Regions from separate parts of the Homo sapiens genome. Here regions 1, 2, 3 and 4 are each reported to be linked to region 5. Evidence: microRNA targets listed by miRTarBase, many of them from high-throughput screens and not tested one by one. Region 5 holds a microRNA gene; each other region holds the end of a gene's coding sequence. Distances are from middle to middle.
The links. The annotated mature microRNA hsa-miR-7151-3p reads CUACAGGCUGGAAUGGGCUCA and lies in region 5 at 1,449-1,469, opposite strand. An mRNA with a match to its seed (bases 2 to 7 or 8) in the 3' UTR can be bound and repressed. Matches are read on the target gene's strand: a 7mer-m8 pairs with bases 2 to 8, a 7mer-A1 pairs with bases 2 to 7 and ends in A, and an 8mer does both.

Region 1: miRTarBase lists LETMD1 as a target of hsa-miR-7151-3p. Seed matches in the 3' UTR shown: 7mer-A1 at 1,931-1,937.
Region 2: the mRNA of FOXRED2 is a reported target of hsa-miR-7151-3p. Seed matches in the 3' UTR shown: 7mer-A1 at 2,619-2,625 and 8mer at 3,509-3,516.
Region 3: the mRNA of PARD3 is a reported target of hsa-miR-7151-3p. The part of its 3' UTR that is shown has no 7-base or 8-base seed match.
Region 4: the mRNA of CD36 is a reported target of hsa-miR-7151-3p. The part of its 3' UTR that is shown has no 7-base or 8-base seed match.

The regions. Positions count from the first base shown.
Region 1 is chr12:51,058,681-51,062,177 of GRCh38, reverse strand. LETMD1 (LETM1 domain containing 1) reads right to left here. Exons shown (of 9, transcript NM_015416.5): 9 at 1,754-2,817. The coding sequence ends at 2,747. It overlaps CSRNP2 (cysteine and serine rich nuclear protein 2), which reads left to right. Exons shown (of 5, transcript NM_030809.3): 5 at 1-973. Among named protein-coding and RNA genes, the nearest start is that of LETMD1, 12 kb to the right of the region's middle.
Region 2 is chr22:36,486,031-36,491,156 of GRCh38, reverse strand. FOXRED2 (FAD dependent oxidoreductase domain containing 2) reads left to right here. Exons shown (of 9, transcript NM_001102371.2): 9 at 890-3,967. The coding sequence ends at 1,149. Among named protein-coding and RNA genes, the nearest start is that of TXN2, 7.0 kb to the right of the region's middle.
Region 3 is chr10:34,108,616-34,113,718 of GRCh38, reverse strand. It overlaps PARD3 (par-3 family cell polarity regulator), which reads left to right. Exons shown (of 25, transcript NM_001184785.2): 25 at 2,157-4,158. The coding sequence ends at 2,550. Among named protein-coding and RNA genes, the nearest start is that of LINC02629, 210 kb to the right of the region's middle.
Region 4 is chr7:80,672,748-80,677,873 of GRCh38, reverse strand. CD36 (CD36 molecule (CD36 blood group)) reads right to left here. Exons shown (of 15, transcript NM_001001548.3): 12 at 5,031-5,104; 13 at 4,465-4,519; 14 at 3,727-3,891; 15 at 1-1,490. The coding sequence ends at 3,727. Among named protein-coding and RNA genes, the nearest start is that of CD36, 37 kb to the right of the region's middle.
Region 5 is chr10:67,401,903-67,404,902 of GRCh38, forward strand. It overlaps MIR7151 (microRNA 7151), which reads right to left and starts at 1,508; the gene lies at 1,449-1,508. All of the region lies in intron 5 of CTNNA3 (catenin alpha 3), which reads right to left.

The DNA.
Region 1 (3,497 bases), not on the chromosome of region 5:
ACGTATGTCGCAGCAGCATTTCACCCCTGAAGTCTCTAAACTCTGAGCCTGAAAAGATTTGTATTTAATACACATAACATTTTTTAGTTCATTCTGCCTTTCCTATTTGTTCCAGTTTTTGCTTGGTTTTAGTTTGGAGGGGAACTTAAGTACACAGATCCTTATCTCTCCCCATCCCCTAGCCTCACAAAACACAGTTGAGAGTCTTTTAAGTACCTGAGCTCTCGAAGCTACCCAGAACTGAACTAGACTCCCCTACCTTAGACTGGTACCCTCAAACACAGGACTGAAGCTTAATTGGGAATTTGGCTTTATGGAGAAAAGAATCTTTTTCAAAGTTTGTGTCGGAAGGGGAGGGTGAGGTTTGCCCACTGTCTCTGCAGGAAGGCTCCGGCTTAATCTAGGAAGTAGATTCCAGCTGCACGATGAGGAACACATTAGCTTTTGGGATCAAACCAGGAATATGAATCTGTAATTATTAAGCTCATTGCCAACCCACAAGATATGTTTCTGAAAACCTGTAGTTTCTTAATTTAAGTCCATCCCCTTCATTAACGCTACAGTTGTGACTCACACTGATCCCAAACTTTTAAGTGCTAAATATTAACATTTAGCATTAACTGTCTTGTCAAGCGAAAGGCCTTCTCTACAACCTAGTCCATCTCACTTCTGGTGCTACCTGAGTTGGACAGAATTCTAGCTCATGGTTGCTAGGAAAGCTAGGCCTCTGATCATAGAAGCAGATAGCTTCAGTCCCAGTCTAGGCCTAGATAAATGACTCTTATTACCACAACCCTTATTATTTTCCAATTTCCTTTCTCACATACTGTACACAGGTAGTATTTTCAATGTGAATCCAAAGCTTGTCTGGTTCTCTGAAAATAATTTTTTCCCCTTTAGGTTCTTTACATTGTGATAATGCTGTATTTAAAGAGAATATTTAAATGTAATATTAAAGAAATATTCAAAAGAATGATGTGTTACTCTTTGTCTCGGCAGGCCACAGTTCAGTTACTTGTTAGAAAAAGGATGCTTCTCTAGCTTCGTTATAAAACTAATTAGGTCAGTTAGGAATTAATGTTAACAATAGAAACATTTTGTGATGGAAAAATAGAATATTCTCTTTGGAGTACCAAGAGCTGGACTTGGTTCATATGCCCTTGTGTACCTGTTCAGCTGAAGCAGGCCTTGCTCCTGCTCTGTTGGAGCTTAGCCCTGTCCCTACTCTGGGCTCCCATTTTCTCATTCCATTAACTTTTTTTTTTTTTTTTTTTTTGAGACAGAATCTCATTCTGTCGCCCAGACTGGAGTGCAGTGTCGTAATCTCGGCTCACTGCAAGCTCCGCCTCCCGGGTTCACGCCATTCTCCTGCCTCAGCCTCCTGAGTAGCTGGGACTACAGGCGCCCACCACCACGCCTGGCTAATTTTTTGCTATTTTAGTTGAGACGGGGTTTCACCGTGTTAGCCAGGATGGTCTTGATCTCCTGACCTTGTGATCCGCTCGCCTCAGCCTCCCAAAGTGCTGGGATTACAGGCGTGAGCCGCCGCGCCCGGCCTCATTCCATTAACTTTATGAAATTCTCTTTTCCTTGTTATCACCTTAAAGTGTCCAGCAAGGAGATCAACTTCAAATCAGTTTCTGCAAAACTTCCATCCCATCAGAAGGTTCTATGCCAACCAATTAAATCCCCATTTGTTAGATTATGTCAGTCTTGTAAAAGGAGACAGCAAAATGATTAGAGTATGCATAAGTCATTTCCATCAACAGGTTTCAAGCAGTCTTTACTTGGGTTTAAAAACAGTGCTTCATGCATTTACAATAAGTTATTACAGAACTCTAAGTCACTGATGCACACACAAAAGCTAAACCCAACTTACTAACTATGCAGACCTCTCCTGATCTCCCCAGGCTGGGCAGTAATTAGTACCTTACAGGTGTGATCCATGGCCCAGAGAAGGCAGCCACTGTCAGTTACAGTTGGACTGCTGCATCACAGTGGAGGCAGCAGAGTTGAAGATCCACAGAGGGCTGTAATACAGCCCAGAAAAGACAATGGAGAGTGAAGGCTAGAAACATTGAGGAAGGGGTCAAGAAGCACTTGTACTTCCTGTTATCTTTTCCAATAGAATATTCCTGCAAGTTACCCATCAGAAAAAGGTGTTCAGAGGGTTTGAAAAAGAAGTGGTTAGCCCATGCCAGTGAAGGTGACAAAAAACAAAACAACTTGATTTTTGGTCATATCAGAAAGGATGGAGGGAAACACCCAAGTACATGCACGGACACATGTGCTCCAGCCAAAGGAGTGCTGTTTTCACCAGCCACAAATTTTCTAACAGCAACAACAAAAACCCACAGATGTAAGTAACATGGAAGTGGATCAGTCCTAAGCCAAATAAGGATTCCCACCTGGGGCAAAAGCTGACTTCCTAGGACATGAACTGAACACATCACAGTAAAAGCCCAGTAGAGGCTGCTGCCAGTTCCAGCTATTAGTAATTATGAGGGGGACAGGATGACACCTCACACGGACCACCCCTAGCAAGAGGGTTTGTTTCAGTTCTAGCTGTGAGAGGAATGTCTGCAGTTCCCACATGTGTGCCATGCTGTGAAGCCCATGGCCCCTGCTCCTCTCTCTGCCTCCCACACACTTAACAGTACACACAGACTTTGCTGGCAAGTGCTGTTTGTTCCTGCACTGCTATACTATACGACTGCAGGACAATGCCATCCGCTCCATGGTTCATTCAGCGCCTTGTCCCAAGGTAGTTGGTGGAGAGCAGGACCACGTTGTGCAGCAAGAGAGACAGCTCAGCTTCTGAAAACACAGTGTTAGTGGTTTGGCTTGGGAACACTGCCTTATAACTGCCTTGTTATATATGGCTTAAGCCTGGAGGCAGGAAGCCAAGTGCAGGGAGGGGTGGAATGAAGAAGCTGTTTTTCTCAAAGTTCCCCTTCTTTGTTTCAGCCCCTGTATGCATGCCTTCCTTTCCTTCTACTATATATTCGTATCAACTCATCCTCTATTTCTCATGTGATTGCAGTAGAAAATTCAGAGATGGTAATGGTACTAAACACCAGTCGCGTTGGGATTCTTCTGGTAGAAGTTGGTGCTCTAGGGACATTTCTCAGCTTCAAGATTAGTAGGCCTACCCTAACATCCAAAGGCCCACAAAACATCAAGACCTAGCCTAAACAGGGGGCAAACAAGCCTAATACATACCCTCAGATGCTTTGTGTTTGGTCAGCAGACTGTTTTTTTTCTGAGTTTGAATGCCTTTAGACCAGTACTTCTCAACGGGGACAATCCTGCCTCTCTCCTCCCCACCCCTAGGACATTTGGCAATGTCTAGAGACATTTTTGGTTGAGACAACTGTGGGTGAAGGGGTGCTACTGGCATCTAGTGGGTAGAGGCTAGGGATACTGCTATAATAAATACCTATAAAGAACAGGATAGGCTGGACATGGTGGCTCACGCCAGTGATCCCAAAACTTTG
Region 2 (5,126 bases), not on the chromosome of region 5:
AGACAGAGTCTCTGTCACCCAGGCTGGAGTGCAGTGGCACGATCTTGGCTCACTGCAACGTCCGCCTCCTGGATTCGAGTGATTCTCCTGCCTCAGCCTCCCGAGTAGCTGGGATTACAGGTGTTTGTCACTACGCCTGGCTAATTTTTGTATTTTTACTAGAGACGGGGTTTCTTTCTCATTATGTTGGCCAGGCTGGTCTCGAAGTCCTAACCTCAGGCGATCCACCGGCCTCGGCCTCCCAGAGTTGTCGGATTAAGGCGTGAGCCACCACGCCCGGCCGTTTCTTCATATTTCTACATGATAAGTATCCACAGCTATCTTATGATTGACCAAATTTGATTCATGCACCAGCTTTCTGTTGTGGGACAGATGAGGATATACCCGTTTTTCTTTATCCCCCACACTGTTTAGATCAGAACTTTGCACATGGTATTTGCAACTCAAATGTTGTTGAGGGACTGCGTCTTTGCAGGCAGATCTGAGCTCACAGTGGAACTGACCACTGAGTTCCCAGCCGCACCAGGCCGAGGGTCTGCTCATGAAGGTCGGAGCCCCGCCCCCAGTGTGGTTGCCTGCAGAGCCCGGTGCTCAGCCCTGATGTCTGGGAGCTGAGGCATTGCTGTGGTTTGCTTTTATTTTGGAGCCTTGTTCTTCCAGAGTGTCAAGGCAGCCCCCTGCCCTGGAGCCTCGTGGAGGGTCATGATTCATGACCTACTCAGGTTGGACGTGAGATGCCCAGAAAGGTCAGCTCCCAGTTTCAAGGGATGGAAGATACCAGGCAAGGCCTGCAGTGAAGCCCCCACACCTGGCATTGGCAGCTCCCCTTTCTGCACCCCTCCCCACATGTCCCAGCCTGGCTCATTCTCCTCATTTTGCTTTTGTGTAGAGTCCTGCTTCCTGTTCGCCCTCACGCGCCAGAAGTTGCCACCCTTTTGCCAGCAGGGGTACCTGAGGATGCAGGGACTCGTGAGTACCGAGAGCCTTTGGCAGCACAGAGTGGAGAGCAGGCTCCTGCGGGACTATGCCCCCACAGGCAGGCGCCTGGAGGACAGCAGCCAGCAGCTTGGCGACCAAGAGCCACTAGGTTCCCCCCTGGCTCCAGGGCCTCTGGCTCAGTCCGTCGATAGCAACAAAGAGGAGCTCTGACTGTCCCTTCCTAAGCTGTGGGCACAGTGGCCAGGCCTCCCCACCTAGGCCCATGGTCAGTCCCTCTTTCCCCGCAACCTCACACTCCCGCCAATGCGTGATTGCCAAAGACCACTCAGATCATGGCAGTGTCTGCAGCAAAGCCACCAGATGGCACGTGAGGGCTGAAAGTCGGGGATGCGGTGGTCTCCTCCCTCCTGTCAGGGGGCAGAAGGGCATCCTCTGCCAGGTGGGAGCTGCCTTCCCCAGCCCAGTTTGTCTGCAATGGAGCTGTCGCTGAGCCCCAGGCCAGCCCAGTTCTGCCCCGTCTCAAGTGCTCCTCTTCCTTCCAAGCCCCTCCTCAGATGGGCCTGCATCCCGCCTGTGGAGTGCTTCACAGGGGAAACCCATCCGCATCTTAAGAGTTTGTGGCAAGCGCTTTAAAACAAAAGCTCTGATATCCTCAACAACCACAATGGGCAGGTGGGATTGTTGCCCCAGATGACTGCTGAAGACACCAGCTGTGGGATGTCAAGTAATTCCAGGGACCCCCAGCTGGGAGTCCCCGTCTGTGTCACTTGCCACACACTGCCTCAACCTCCCCGCCCCATTTTCAGCAGGGTTTGGGCTTAGCTACAGAGCCCAAGAGGGTCAGCCCTGCTTATCATCATAGGCCCAGCAGGCTGATCTCGAGCAGCGATAGGACAGCTCCCTGCAAAGCCATCTTAGCAACTTTCTCACTGAGAAGCAGGATTCAGAGCTGCTCTCCCCAGTTGCACCCCCTGACTCATCTTCCAGCTGGCTCTTCTCTCCCATCCTACTCCCTTCTGTCTCCCTGCCCTCTGCCATCCTGAACCATGCCTTGCTTCTAACCTGCCTGGTCAAGTTTTGTGAAACTTATCCTGCTGTCTCGGGCTGGCACCCATATGTGCTCACCATGTGTAAGGTGACATTTCCAAATGCCTTTGTGTGATAATGATGATGAATTTGGTTCCTAGTCTCTTCTTCATTGCCCTTCCTCACCAGCAATCTGCACTTTCCCATCAGGCGTCTTAGTCTCATTTGTAAGTGCATAAGATAATCACAGTGATTTTTCAAAGCCCAGGATCATAAGTGATTGCTTTTTCACTGGTTCTTACTAACTCTTCATGTATCCACTCAGAATTCCAAGGACAATCCCAGCACTCTGGGAGGCCCAGGCAGGTGGATCACCTGAGGTCAGGAGTTTGAGACCAGCCTGACCAACATGGAGAAACCCTATCTCTACTAAAAATACAAAACTAGCCAGGCGTGGTAGCACATGTCTATAATCCCAGCTACTGGAGAGGCTGAGGCAGGAGAATCACTTAAACCCGGGAGGCAGAGGTTGCAGTGAGCCGAGATTGCGCCATTGCACTCCAGCCTAGGTAACAAGAGGGAAACTCCATCTCAAAAAATAAGTTAATTAAATTAAATTAAAATAAAACATGCGCTGGGTACAGTTGCTTACACCTGTAATCCCAGCACTTTGGGAGGCCAAAGTGGGCCGATCACCTGAGCTCAGGAATTCGAGACCAGCCTGGCCAACATAGCAAAACCTTGTCTCTACTAACGGTAAAAAAAATTAGCTGGGCATGGTGGAGCATGCCTGTCATCCCAGCTACTTGGGAAGCTGAGGCAGGAGAATTGCTTGAACCTGGGAGGTGGAGGTTGCAGTGAGCAGAGACCGAGCCACTGTACTCCAGCCTAGGTGACAAAGCAAGACCCACAGTAAAGCCCCCACACCCCATCTCAAAAAAATAAAAAATAAAAAAGAACAAAGTATGCTACAACAAAAGTGAAAAGAGAAAAAGAATTCCAAGAACCCGGGCTTTCTGGATCCAAAGCTCTTTCATGGGGACGTCCTCTTCCCCTCTTGGCTTGGTCCAGACTTTTTCTTTTTCTTTTTTTTTTTTTTTGCAATGGATTTCGCTCTTGTCACCCAGGCTGGAGTGCAATGGCACGATGTCGGCTCACTGCAACTTCTGCCTCCCGGGTCTAAACAATTCTCTTCCCTCAACCTCCCAAGTAGCTGGGATTACAAGCGCCTGCCACCACGCCCAGCTAATTTTTGTATTTTTAGTAGAGACAGGGTTTCACCACATTGGCCAGGCTGGTCTCGAACTCCTGACCTCAGGTGATCCACCTGTCTTGGCCTCCTAAAGTGTTGGGATTACAGGCATGAGCCACCACGCTCGGCCCAGTCCAGACTTTTTAACTACCTGGCCCCACTGCAGACACAGTTCCCTCTAGTCCTTCCCAGAGTTACAAGAAGAGAACTCCAGTAGCCTTATTCTGTCAGGGACGAATTGTTTACCCCATGATAATGTAGGATATCATAAATTCTTCTTCAAAGGTTTTAGCCTGTAATTTGTTAAGTACATTGAGTTCTGAGATCCTCTCCAAAGAACCAATGTATCAGTATGTTCAGCTCACCTGTTCTTTGTTCTTCATTTTAACTTTTAATTTCCTCATTCTTTATGTCTCCTTGCCCCTAGTTTCAGTAAACAATCCCCTCCTAGCCTCTGTCACCTGCTCTGACCTGAGTCACCTTTAGTCACCTGGTCCGTAACCATCTTTCCTGTCTAAACTTCTCACCCCACCACTCTGGCTTATACCCCTGCTCTCTTTAAAATAGCCAGTCAGAATTAGCTTAGATTGTGCGGTCCAACCCTAGCCCATAGGGGAACAACACAGCAGTAGGGGGTACCTGCATCAGGGATAAGAACCCATTCCCCTCCCTTGTTCCGGTGTGCTCTCGCCATTGCACCATCCATGAGACGCACTCTTGTATAGAAGTAAAATTGCCTTGCTGAGAAAATGTATGTTTGAGTGCTATTTCTTTTGTGGCACTGAAAATTTATTTCTAACAAATTTGGGGTCTCATTTGGGATTCCCATCCTCCTCTGAGGAGGGTCTAGACCTCTCCCATGAGGAGGCACGTCCCACTGCCTTGTTGCGGTGGCCACAGGGGTAAGGAATCGAGACCAACCAGTGTGACGAATAAACCTATACTCTCAGCAAGGCAGAAAGAAACGGGCTGGCGACCTGGGGGAAAGGATCCTCATGTACCACAGCGACCAAGTAAGTGTGCAGAGACCAAGCTAAGAAACATCGCAGGGGTGACAAAGTATTTCCTTGGTGGTCAGGATATTCTGGGGGTTGAAAGTGTGCATGAATGCAAGGAGCCTCCAGCAGGTGGGGCTAAAGGATAGGCGAGACATCTCCAACAGGGGAGATTGAGCTTAACCAGGACCCAAGATGGGAAATGCCCCAAGTAAGGTAAGAGATAAAAAGGAGAAAGCTAGCAACAGTAATATTCCCCCAGGCCTAATGTTAAAATGTTAGAAGGATAATGAAAGGACCAAAAACAAAAGCAGCTGCTGTCCCAGACCCTTCTCCTATCTCTGATGTCCCCTTTCTTACAACCCTGCCTCTTGAGAATCGTCCCAAGAGCCCACTCACTACCGACCTAAGTACCTTTCCCTTAAAGGACTTCAACGTGAGATAGAGCAATGTAAAAAAGATATTCAGAATTTCCCTTTCCCCTCTTCTCGGGGGAAGAAAGAGACATGATCCATAGAGCTGCTATGGGAGCCTAGGAACACGAACACCCTCCTGGCCAAAACGTTCCTACAGCAGATCAAAAAACTCCCACCCAAGACCCCCAGTGGGACAATAACAACGCAGCCCACCGAGAAAATATGCAGGACCTTAAGGAATTGATAATAAAGGGGATTAAAGCATCAGTACCCCGAGGCTGGGCGCAGTGGCTCACGCCTGTAATCCCAGCACTTTGGGAGGCCGAGGCAGGCAGATCACAAGGTCAGGAGATCGAGACCATCCTGGCCAACACAGTGAAACCCCGTCTCTACTAAAAAATACAAAAAAATTAGCTGGGCATAGTGGCAGGCGCCTTTAGTCCCAGCTACTCAGGAGGCTGAGGCAGGAGAATGGCGTGAACCCAGAAGGCGGAGCTT
Region 3 (5,103 bases), 33 Mb from region 5:
CTCTAAGCCTAAGCCACTCCCACCTTGCCCAGCTGGATGCTTAGTTTCCTAGTGTAGGAAACTCTTATTGTCTGTTTCCTTCCCTTGGTCTCTACAATTGGCCCATTTCTCATTCTCTCCTTAATCAAGAGCATATAGATACTGCTAACTTCCTTACCAAGGAATTGTGTGTGTGCGCATGTGTGTGTGTGTCTATGTGTGTGTGTGTGTGTGTGTGTGTGTTTCTGTCTTATGTGCATTTTACCCACATATCTTACTTCAGACCTCAGGGCAGTCTGCTTCCTTCTCTCTATACTGATTAATTTGAAGAAAATTTTAGCTACAAAAAATTGGTTCTCCCACATTGTTGTAATTTCCATCCCTAACAAACCTTTAGTGAATTCTCCCTGTTTAAATGTAGAAAGACTGTGTCTTCCGGGGATGATGCAGAATCCACTTAGGGTGCACAGCTGCCGTAGAGCGAAGCCTGGGGCTCCATGAAGCTGGGGAGGAAGGGGGTTGGTGGATCTTAGTAGGCCAGAGATGAAAAAGAGGTGAAATGTCTGCAGCCTATTTCTGATTATCTTCAAACTGATAACTCATAAAAGAATCCCATTTTTGTTGCTGTAATATCAGTCACAAGTTCCTTGTTTTAATTAAAGTTTCATGATTAATGTCAAATCCCTGGTTTCATGCCGGCATTTTCCAACAGTCTTGTCTCTGGGTAGATTAATTTATGACTTAAGTGAAGATAATCAGTGCTTTAGGCAAATAAACTATTCCATCACATCTAAGGATTCTTGCCTGGGCTGACTGTACAAATGGTGCAGTCTTCCGTTAAAAGAGACAGACATGCTATGGAATGCTCATCCAGTCATCGTCATAGCCAGAGGTGATGCTGGACATTATGGTCATTTTCTTTACTGAAAATGTTCCCAACTACATTTTAGGCCATATGGAAAATGGGTGCATTTCACTCCAAACCATATTGATGCAATTGTGAATGTTCAAAAATGCAAATTGCATCATTCCTGCGGGAGATGCAGTGGCTTCCCAGACCTTCTTTTCCTTCCGTGAAAATCTTTGTGAACATTCAGCTGTGTTGTGTGTGTTGATGGAGAGGGTTGAGCAATACATACTGTCGCCAAATGATTTTCTTATTGATAAATGGAGCAATATACTTTGTTTTATTACTCAATTGTCTCTCCCCCTCTTCCATTTTCAAGGCAAAAAAATTAGGGCATGTCTTCCTTTCTGGCACAGAATTGTTTTATTTCATCATAGCCAATCTTATTGTAAATTCATAAAACCATCTAGAGACTTGATAGTAAATTAAAGATGTTTCAAAACAATAATGTTTCCTGGAAATCATGCCCAACTCTGTTGCAGAAGTGGGAAGAATTTGAAATTTCCATGTGACTCTGATTTACTTGCCTATCCTGGGGTGACAGAAAGCAAGTTAAGTAGGTCACCCTGGCCTTTGGTGAAGGTAAATGTATAAGAAAATAGTGCTTACTTTACAGACTTCCGGACTCTCCGTCCAATCTGGATGAGCAGGTATCCCGGAGAGTGTAAGTTGCTGACATACACAACTTGAAAGCCAGAGCTTTAAGGGACTGCCTGTTGCATTTTTTATCATAAAGGAGTCTAGACTTAAATCTTTCATAACCGAACTCATACTGTAATCCATTACATGTACTTCATATTAGCTAGCGCTTCTGGCATTATGGTGGCAGCTGTGTAAAATATTTGTTGTGCTTGTTTAGAATTGAATTGTAATGTTCTAAAGCGAGCAATTATTCCTACCATGGAAGCTGCCAAACCTCTAATACTTCTATACTTTGCCAGTGTGTCTAAATTGCAGGAGATATTGGTACCCTAAGCAGAACAGACACAACCTTCTCAGACACAGGAGGATGACCCTGTTTCTAAATAGCTGCACAGTCTAGTTCTCTCTCCTGTTTACTCGTTGTTAGTTTAGTTGTCTAAGACTATGCGCTTGCTGAGGACAGTCATTTTTGAATTCTCCAGCCCCTATCGCAGTGTCTGGCATGTGATGAGAGAACAGGAATATTTGTTGAAAAGTGAAAATGCATATTCCATCCCATCCTGCCCCCTTTCCTCCCTCTCCCTCCTTCTTCCTACCCTCACACTAACCTTTGGGTTTTGCTTTCTAGGCAAAGCAGGAAAAATGCCAGCTCGGTCTCCCAGGACTCTTGGGAGCAGAACTACTCCCCTGGGGAAGGCTTCCAGAGTGCCAAAGAGAACCCCAGGTACTCCAGCTACCAAGGCTCCAGGAACGGCTACCTGGGAGGACATGGCTTCAACGCCAGGGTCATGCTGGAAACTCAGGAGCTCCTTCGCCAGGAACAGAGGCGGAAGGAGCAGCAGATGAAGAAGCAGCCTCCTTCCGAGGGGCCCAGCAACTATGACTCGTATAAGAAAGTCCAGGACCCCAGTTACGCCCCTCCCAAGGGGCCCTTCCGGCAAGATGTGCCCCCCTCCCCTTCTCAGGTTGCGAGGCTGAACAGACTTCAGACTCCTGAGAAAGGGAGGCCCTTCTATTCCTGAGCACGCAAATAACGGATGCTTCATGTCGCGCAATAAAAGACATTTTCCTATGAAGACTTGTATTTTGGGAGTTTTTTTAAAACCTCGATGGTACTATGGAGTATTTCTGTTGTTGGTATCAGTGCCTTTAAGCGGTGTAGGCAAAGAAATGGAAGGCCTTAATGTCTTTGCCACTATGTCTCAAGTGTCTGTTTCATGGAAGGATTTCCCACCCTGTGACAATCATCTGTTTGAGGTGTTCATATGCTCTGCGCCTCTCCACAGTACCAGGAATCTCGGCCCTACTCATGAGTTGTCCGCGGCTTGGTTGTAACATCCCTGCACCACTTGCAGTGACAAATTCACCTGAAGTGGAGGATGACGTGCGGCCCTGTTTCTCCCTCTAAGTTCTCTTAGCTATGGGATGACATCTTAGTCTCTGGTGGAGGAAAAGTGGGCGACATACACCAAAAATTGGGGCTTTCTGGTACTTCACAGCACAGCCATTTGTCGTACTTTGTCATCACTGTGGTTTTCTCTTTCCTTTCTCAGCTCTTTGTGACGGGAGAGTCGGTCATCCTATTACAGAAGCTAAGCCATAGTCCAACATTGTTTGGTCACCATGGGGGTCCTTTTGTAACTGCCTTATGACTCAACATTACCAATAAAGTGATGATCCTGGTCTGCGTTTATACATACGCTTGTTCGGTCCTGTTCCTGACACGTGGGTTGAGTCACCACAGCTCTGTGTGGGGAACGTGGGAGACAGGAGTGGCTCCTGCCGGGGGAAGCTGGGCCTGCCATTGGCCCTGTGTCTATCATGAGGGGAGAGCTAAGAAAGAAATTCTCCTAGGAAGAGCTCATGGCCCAGTACATCCTAGTAATTATTTTAATTAGTTTTTGTTCTGACAGCTTGTCAGGAAGGGCACAGAATGGGACAGAGATAAACCAGACAGTCATTTTGATCTGCTCTCTACGGTTTTTCAAGTCAGAGGCAATTGATGCTTGTCTAATGCATCCACACACTGCATGTCTGACTGGCGATGCCGCGCTCCTAAGTAGTTCTGCCATGAAACATAAAAGACAAAGGAAAAGCCGTTACACATCACACAGAGAACATTTTCGGGTCCCACAGCGGTGGTGGCAGGAAGCTCACTCTCGCGTCAGTATTAGAGTGTGTGTGTGGGTCTCGGGGATCTCGGTGGCTCCCATCTTCCTTCATTGTTCTGAACATCCTGTATTGTAAACCATGGCTGGGGTGCTAAAGTGCCTGTGAATCCCGATGTGGAAAAAGCTGGAGGTGAAAGCTCAGCATACCATGTATTTACTTTAAAAACAGAAAAAAAGACATGTATGGATATGTCTATTTTTTTTTTATTGGCACATTGTATTTTTGTGTTGACTTGTTTTTAGAAATGATGTGTCCACACACGTACCCGTGTCTCTTCTGCATTTCTGTGTCATGGTTCTGTTTCTTAATCACGTGCGGCGGTGTCTAAGTGGTGTTACCAGTGTACGCGCAGTGACCTTGGATGACAGTGGCTCTTTCTCACAGCCTCCCCTGAGCTGTGAGAAACAGCTTTCTCTGTACATATGCAACTCCTAATAAAAGGCATATTTCTTCCTGTTCTTTTGGTGTCTCTGGTGTTCCTGGGCAGCCTTGCCTAGCTGGGCTTTTTTAAAAGGTCTATTAACAGATGTGATTTTTTTTTTTTTTTTATATTTAGAGAAAGTTGGAAGTTTCCTCACATCTGAGGAAAGTTTGCAGGAAAGGGGGCAGGAGAACCCTGGGGCCCACTCTTGGATGAGGATGGAGAGGGGGGACTCACCTGTCCCTTGGAAAAGATGGTCCCCATTATGACATCATTCTCACTCTTAGTCCATTAAGACAATATACAGTCTTACAGTTGGAAGTCTCAAAGTGGGAAGTTTGCAAACACAGGAACTGGTGGTTGATTGCGTATTTGAGCACCTGAGGAGAGAGGGGAAGGGGAGAGACAAGAACCTTCATGAGTCCACTGCAAGGCCCAGGCTGCCTGAAGAAGCCTGAGGAGTTCTGAATTGAAGGAGCCAGTACAGCTCGAACTAAATGAATGAAAAATTATGCAGAAAGCGACATGATAGTCCCATGACTGCCCTTTGGACCCTTGGAATCATCCTAGCAAGCCAGATGTTTTGATTGAGTCCTGGCCTTGAGTCCTGTGAGCCCAGAGAAAGGTCCAGATTCGAGTCCACTTCCAGTACAAACCTGGTTCTTATTTCCCAAATTACAAAGTAAGGCTTTGCTATTTCTTTAAGAGGGACGCCCACAAATATGCATGCGGCATTTTGAAGGCATAAAGGGTGCTATGTCCCTAGGTATGTCTAGTGCACAAATATAGGAGATTTGGTCCCCACACAAATGGCAGACTTTGCGAGGACCTGTCAAAAATGCCCTCTTATGGAGCACCTAGCATCAGTGGGTTGTCATAGCAACGCTCATCCTGTCACTACATCCAAATTCTATCACCTCGAGATTAGGAATGAGGGGTGCATGGCAAGCCGAGGCAATACCACCTCCTTGGTTCTTTCAAG
Region 4 (5,126 bases), not on the chromosome of region 5:
ATATCTAAATGCTATGAGATCATCCCTGTATTAAGATCTGAGTCATGATTAGTCATAATATACAGGTCAATATGTATATTCTCATCCAATTATCTTTAGAAGTTTCTACATTATATAACTCAGCCCTACATGCCTCAATGATTAAAAAACTTTCCTTTATATTAGATGGACATGTCCACAAATATCCTAATGCAAATAGAATAAACCTTGTATTATCAGAAGAACATGTCTACAATGTTATCTTACATATTAATATCTTGGACAGATACTTCTTTTATCTTCCCAGTTAAAAGGAAAGGCACTAAGTATGCTTTAAGCACCTTCAGAGATGCAAAAGATCTTTCCAAACAGGTAGATTCTTGGTTTGTGGCTTTTCTGTAGTAATGCTCAACATTTACTCTGGCGGCTATCATAAGGAGGAGGCTAAAAGTTATTTTCGATTTTAGTATCCAAACAGGCCAGTTACTATTCCTTTGTCCTGTATCCTTCTGTGGGTAAAACACAAGCTAGAATTTGGTTTATCTTCCCTTTCTATGCTGGAGCTTTTTAGGAGAACTAATGCTCTCAGAATAAGTGAACCCCTGCTCAAGAAACAGAGTTACCTATTAATGTGTCTCCTTATGAAAAAGGAAAAACCTTTGCAATTGTCCTACTGCTGTAAAGGATGAAACCAAATGTCTTTTTGTTCTTCATCCAATTAGCTTAAAAAATTAGCCTAGAACAAAGTGGTAGAAATTTAGAAAGCATATTTCAGCAAGGACTATGGATTTATAAAGAAATGTGGATTCAGATAAAATATACTTCAGAGAGAAAATTAGGATAAACATTTTATGACACAAGAGGAACTAGAAAAAGCACAGGAATTTAAGGAAGAACATATTTTAATGGTTGAAACCTGTCTTTATGAGGCGATTATGACAGCAAAAAATATTATAATGAATAACAATGCATAGTCTACGCTTTGTAATATTTCATACAATAATTCCTTTATCATTTACATCTCTTAATGCTAGAAAAGCATTCTGAAGATGCCAAGCGTAAGTTGCAACTGAGTAAAAAAAAAAAAGCAAAATTTACTCAATTTCCAGAAGAGGTGCAGAACAGAGAATGAAGGTCCTTAAAATATAAACCGCTAGTGTGCTAAAATGATGTCCATTTGCAGGATCAGTGACAAAATATTTAAGCCCATAAAGAAAAGAGTTATACCTGCTGTATGAAGGTATTCATAGAGAAATATGAGTCATAAGCCAATTATTTATAAATGTCTTTCAAAATATTTGGTGCACATGAAATGCAGTATACTGATGGTCCTGGAGACTGTTGCAGTTGAATAGGGCAGCTACTGGGATGATGGTGTTTCCCCCGGATGAGGATGACAGGAATGCAGGGCCTAGGATTTGTTGAGCATGTACACTCTTCTTCTGAATTGGCCACCCAGAAACCAATTATTGAATCAGAACAACACAAATTGGTTTGTGCTTGAGCCAGGTCTGTAGAAACGGAAATCAATTCAGTTGTGGAAATGATGAATTTTAAAAGCTGCTGGGTTTTTTTTTGTGCAAGGTAGAGATTTTCATAACATCTCAATAATCCTTTTGAAATGTGCAGTTGCTTAGTGCAAAAAAAGAAATAGTGCCACCATTTCTTCAACTAAAAGATAAGGTGTGCTTTGTAAAAGTAAAGCATATCCAATTTTCATCCTGTTGGTCGGTATTACCAAGGGTCATGATGTAGCTGGCGCACAAATGTGAAGAATCATTTACTACCTGTAGAGTGGCAGTATATCTTAGATATCATACTTTTTATTAATCAGTTCAGTTTCTCTAGCTGCAGAGAGAAGTTCTCTAACGGACTTCACCAATAGGGCAAAACACATTCCCATTCCAGAAAGGCACATAAGAAGGGTGCTTCAAGACAAGCACACACCAGGCAAGGAACGGTAGCTGAAGTGCATCTGCCCTGGACCAGCATTTCCACACCCTTCAGACCAAGTTCCATTTAAAGGTGTATGTACTACTTTCAAAAGGACCATTGGGTTATTTTCTTGTGACCCCCTGAGTAAAACCACACATTAAAGCTCCACCGTCTTACACTTTGCTACTTCTTACATACCTGTCTTCTTACTTGTTCCTATTGTTTACAAATCTGCCCAAAGATATAATTTTTATGATATTAAGAGCTGAATTTTGCTTAAGAAAATCTACATATCTTTTGTGATTCTTCTAAATCTAGTAAATCAAGTAATCAACAGTTTATTCTCTGCTTGTAAAAAAGGGTAGTAATTTTTCCACATAAAAATCAAATATATAAGCAAAACTAATATATTTGTTGACAAAGTTGCTCCAGCAAGCCTTGAATTTTTCATTATAATTTAGCTATAAATAGACCCAAGGAATCTGACATCCAAGGATCATTAAGCAATCATAAAAATGTATCACATAATTTTAATTCTGAATACTTACTTACAAAACATGTTTATAACTTCTGCATTTCCTTTTATTAAGCATGCTTTCCCATTAGGACAAGTTTTTTTGTTATTTTGTTTTACTTTTCAGCGGATGATCTATTACATAGTCATACAAATACCTTTGTTTAGTCATAATTTGTCAGTAGGCTACTGACAGGTATTGAAGGTAATATTTAACTTTTTATAATGTGAACATTTTAGGCTAGCATTTTGAAGCCATTCTGTCCAAATAGTTTGGATGCAGAATTATTGTCTTTTTGGTGACTAAATAGTGGTAGAAGTGATTAGAACCAAAAATTAGGTTGCCTTTTCAAACACAAGCTCTCCATCTCACAAAAGGAAATTATTGGTCCCCAAATTCCACTTTCACTGATTTATGCTTTGGTCACAAACAATTAAAATGTATGATTTCATGGAACATCTCTAGAAGATAGAATGGATGCTGATGAATCCAGGCTATTGGAAAATCATGAAATTGTATTAGGGATCATGTGAGATAAAGAATCTTTCTTTAGCATGGTACTGGCACACAGTAAACAACTAAATAAGTTATTATAACACACATACTGCTTTTATTTACATTGCCTTGAGGTGGGCTGAAGAAAAATAGGGAGAAAGTAAAAAATTCTCCCCCACAGGCAACACCAATGTTACCTGTGATAACTAAAAAAAGGTTTTCCTTTAGGAAAGGTCAGGCATTCATTCATCTTTAAGAGTGCATGGACACTAATATCTAAAGCATAGAGGCCTAAACTCTTGTACACCACTCTGAGTACTTGGTTCTACTATGTTGAACACTATTTTCCCCTATTTCCTGATACTATTATATTCAAATTTTTGTTCAGGACTTTTCTGGATTTGGAAAATGCACGGCCAGCATGTCTACATGCAGCAATCCTGGTCTTATGAAACCATTTCCTAGTCAATTATTTTTAAGTATCAGATAATATATAACTAGCTATATAATTGAGAAATGAACCAGTCAATTTTGGACAACTTTGGCACAAGTGCTTTATTTGTGCTATTGTTACAATGGTCACAAGTACATCTTTTATCTCATTTCTCCCAGAATTAAAGATATACTTTAGTGATCTGCGTGATAATATTTATAGGTTTATTTACCTATATTTAAAAATGATCAGTGGCTAGACATGTCTAGAAATATATATGGCCTAATATGTAACTTCTCTTTGATAAAGTGAAAACAAGTAATATATAAGCTAATATTATTGAAGCAATATTTTTTGGTACATACTTACTTATTTTATTGTTTTCGATCTGCATGCACAATATGAAATCATAAAAGCAACAAACATCACCACACCAACACTGAGTAAGATCATTTCTATCAGGCCAAGGAGGTTTATTTTTCCAGTTACTTGACTTCTGAACATGTTTGCCTTCTCATCACCAATGGTCCCAGTCTGTAATCAAGTTAATAATCAACATTATTTGGGTACGTTAGTAAAACAAAATAAACCCTTCAATTGCCTATCACCCTTTTTTCTAACACCTCTATTGGTGTTAGTCATCAGTATCTATAAGGCAAGTTAATGGAATTCCTTTTGCAAGTCAAGAAAGGCAATTAAGTGCCAGATAGAGTACGGTACTCTTCAATGTACTAGGATTCATTTGCTCTTCAGAACTATCAAAGGGTCAACAGTTTCATTTGCTCCAAAGACTTATTCAATGTTTTTCCTATTTTTATAGCTATCAATGCATGGATTTATAGTAAAAATACCTTGTCAGGCAATAGAAGACAAATGTTACAACAAGAAAATGTGTTTAATAGATGCATTTTTGAAGAAAATCTTAAATGATAGGAAATGTTTTTGTTCAATTGGATCATCTCAAATAGGTTAAATAAATGTATACTCATCCATATGGGTAATGGAAATACATATAGCTTTAAATACTATACATTCTTTTGAAACATCAAGAGCTTGTTTATATACAAAGAAGGTTGTTTTTAATGACTAACAGCTGCAAATACAAACCTCATTAAGCCAAAGAATAGGCACAATATAGTTCCTCTTCAGATTCTTTAATACTCTGTAATATACGTTGAAAATAATTATGAACATATAAACTAATATTTATATATAACAAACTTTAAAATAAATGTTCATAAATTAGTTGCTGTTGCTAATTTGATTTTGTTCCTGTAATGACTCATTTAAATTTTAATATAGTTGTTTTTGACTTCCTTTGCTCTTATATGTCTTCTAATCACATTGATTTTTTTTCACAAGTGTGGATTTTTCCTTTCAATAAATTCTCGGGGAACTGAAATATGAATTCCAAAAATTAATTATTGTCATAGAAATATTTGGGCAGCTAACAAAATAAGAGATGCTATCAAATGCTCAAATAAAACCATAAAACCATTCCAAAATCTGTGAAATTAGTCATAAGCATTTAATAATGATTGGTGACATTAAGCTAAAGATAAGTTGATATCAGATGTTATTTCCACTTACTTACATAGATTTACTCATGTTCTTACAAGAAGATACTACGATACTACAGATCATATCAAAATAACCATTTTCAAGAGACTCACTGAATTTTTTCTGATGGCTTGACCAATAGGTTGACCTGCAGCCGTTTTGCAAATTGTAAAGTGAATCCAGTTATCTAAAAAGAGAACAACTAAATA
Region 5 (3,000 bases):
TTAGTTCTCTAAAAACTTTCAGAAACAAAGCCAACAAAGTACACTCAATTTACACCACAATTAAAAGAATACCATCCCTCCCAGATGAGAAAGAATCAGCATAAGAACTCTGGCAATTCAAAAAGCCACACTGCCCCCTTACCTCCAAATGAGCCCACTAGCTCCCCAGAAATGTTTCCTAACCAGTCTGAATTATCTGAAATGACAGACATAGAATTCAAAATATGGATGGCAAAGAAGCTCATTGAGATCAAGAAGAAAGTTGAAACTCAATCCAAGGAAGCCAAGCAATCCAGTAAAATGATTCAAGGGCTGAAAGGTGAAATTCTCACTTAAAGAGAGACAAAAACTTAATTTCTTGAGCTGAAAAATTCACTACAAAAATTACATAATATAATTGGAAGTATTAACAGCAGAATAGACCAAGCTGAGGAAAGAATCTGAGAGCTCAAAGAGCAATTCTTTCAATTAACACAGTCAGACAAAAATACAGAAAAGAGAATTGAGAAAGATGAAGAGCAGAGAGTGGGCCGAGACCTCCAATTAGAAGTAGCTATGGTGCATGGCACTCATAAAGAGGAAGAAAAGCAGTGAGTAAATACAGCACCTTCAACTGAAATATCCAGGTTTTCGCACTGGGACTGATCAGGGAAATAACCAATCCACAGAAAACAGAGAAAAGTAGGGCAGGATGATAGCCCACCTGGAAGTGACGCAAAGCCAAGGGAACCCCCACCCCAGCCAAGGAAGTGGTAAGTGAATGTGCCACCCTGGGAAACCACATTTCTCCCATGGATCTTTGCAACCCTCAGATCAGGAGATCCCCTCATAAACCCACTCCACCAGGACCTTGGGTCAGATACACAGAGCTGTGTGGAGTCTCAGCAGGGCAGCCACTCAGGTATGCACAGAGACCCAGGAGATTTACATACCCCAGCCACAGGATCCCTGGCAAAGGTGACTACAACTCAGTCAAGGCGGGAGGTCCATACATACCCCTAGGAAGGGGGCCGAATCCAGGGAGCTGAACAGCGTCCATCTGTGGGCCCCATTTCCAAGGCACCTCACAAAATAAGACCCACTGGCTTGGAACTTCAGCCAGCCACCAGCAACAGGGTAGTGCCTGCCTGAGATGGAATGGAGCTGCCAGGGAAAGGGGTGGGCTGTCACCTTTGTTATTTGGACAACTCAGCTGTTCAAGTCTGTGGGCTTTGGAGAGTCCAAACAGTCTGGACAAGTAAGGGACCCCCAGCACAGCACAGCACAGCTGCTCTATGAAAATGTGGCCAGACTACTTCTTTAAGTGGGACCCCAATCCATTCCACCCCACTGGGCAGGACTTCCCAATAGGGACCTCCAGCCACCCCTGCCCATATTCTAGGAAAGAACTCTGATCTCTCCCTTGGCTGGAGTGCCCAGTGGGGAGGGATGAGCTGCCAATGTTGCTTTGAGCCCATTCCAGCCTGTAGGCTTTGCAGAATCCAAGCCAATACAGGCAGAGATGGATCCCCAGCAACGCATGGCTGTTTTGTCAAGGTGTGGCCAGACTGCTTCTTTAAATAGAACCCCAATCCATTCCTCCTTGCTGGGCAGGTCCTCCCAACCAGTGCTTCCAACCACCCTCACCCATGTTCTATGGCTGACAAAGTTCTAATTTCTCCCTGTGATGGAGTGCCCAGGGGGCCAGGTGGGCTGCCACCTGTGCTGTTTGGGCATCTCACCCAGTCCAACCTGTGGGCCTTGGAAAGTGCAAAACTATATGGGGGTGAAGGGAAGCCAAACACAGCACAGCTGCTCTACAAAAACGCAGGAAGGCTGCTTCTTTAAGGAGGTCCCTGATCCCATTCCTCCTGACTAGGTGAGACCTCCAAAACAGGGTTTCCAGCCACATCCTATGGGTGCATTCAGGCTGGCAACAGGTCAGTACTTCTCTGGGACAGAGCTCTGAGAGGAAGGGGCAGGCTGCCATCTTTGCTGTTTTGCAGCCTTCACCGGTAATACCTACAGGTACTGAAAAAACTGAGGTGACTAGGGTCTGAAGCAGCCGCCCAGCAAATCATAGCAGCCCTACAGAAAAGTGGTCAGACTGTTCAAAGAAAAAACGAGCAAAACAACAAGAACAACAACAACAAAAACCCATCCAAAGGTCAACAACCTCAAAGATCAAAGGTAGATAAGCCAACAAAGATGAGAAAGAATCAGCACAAAAACACAGAAAACTCAAAAATCCAGTGTGCTCCCTTTCCTCTAAATGACCACAACACCTCTCCAGCAGGGATTTAGAACTGGACTGAGGCTGAGATGGCTGAGATGATAGAAATAGGATTCCAAATGTGGATCTAAAAAATGAACTTCACTGAGCTAAAGGAGCACTTTGCAACTCAATGCAAGGAAGCTAAGAATCATGATAAAACAATGCAGGAGCTGACAGCCAAAATAGCCAGTATAGAGAGGAATATAACCAACCTGATAGAGCTGAAAAAAACACAACAAGAACTTCACGATGCAATCACAAGTATTAATAGCAGAATAGGCCAAGCAGAAGAAAGAATCTCAGAGCTTGAAGAATGTCATTCTGAAATAACACAGGCAGACAAAAATAGAGAAAAACAATGAAAAGGAATAAACAAAACCTCCAAGAAATATGGGATTATGTAAAGAGACTGAATCTATGACTGATTGGGGTACCTGAAAAAGATGAGGAGAATGGGACCATTTTGGATAACATAATTCAGGATATCATCCAGGAGAACTTCCCTGACCTACCTACAGAAGCCAACATTCAAATTCAGAAAATGCAGAGAACCCCAGTAAGATACTTACTCCACAAGAAGATCGTCCCCAAAACATGTAATCATCAGATCCTCCAAGGTCAAAATGAAATAAAAAATGTCAAAGGCCACTGGAAAGAAAGGCGAGGCCACCTACAAAGGGAAGCCCATTGGACTAACAGTGGACCTCTCAGCAGAAACCATGCAAGCCAGAAGAGATTGGGGGACA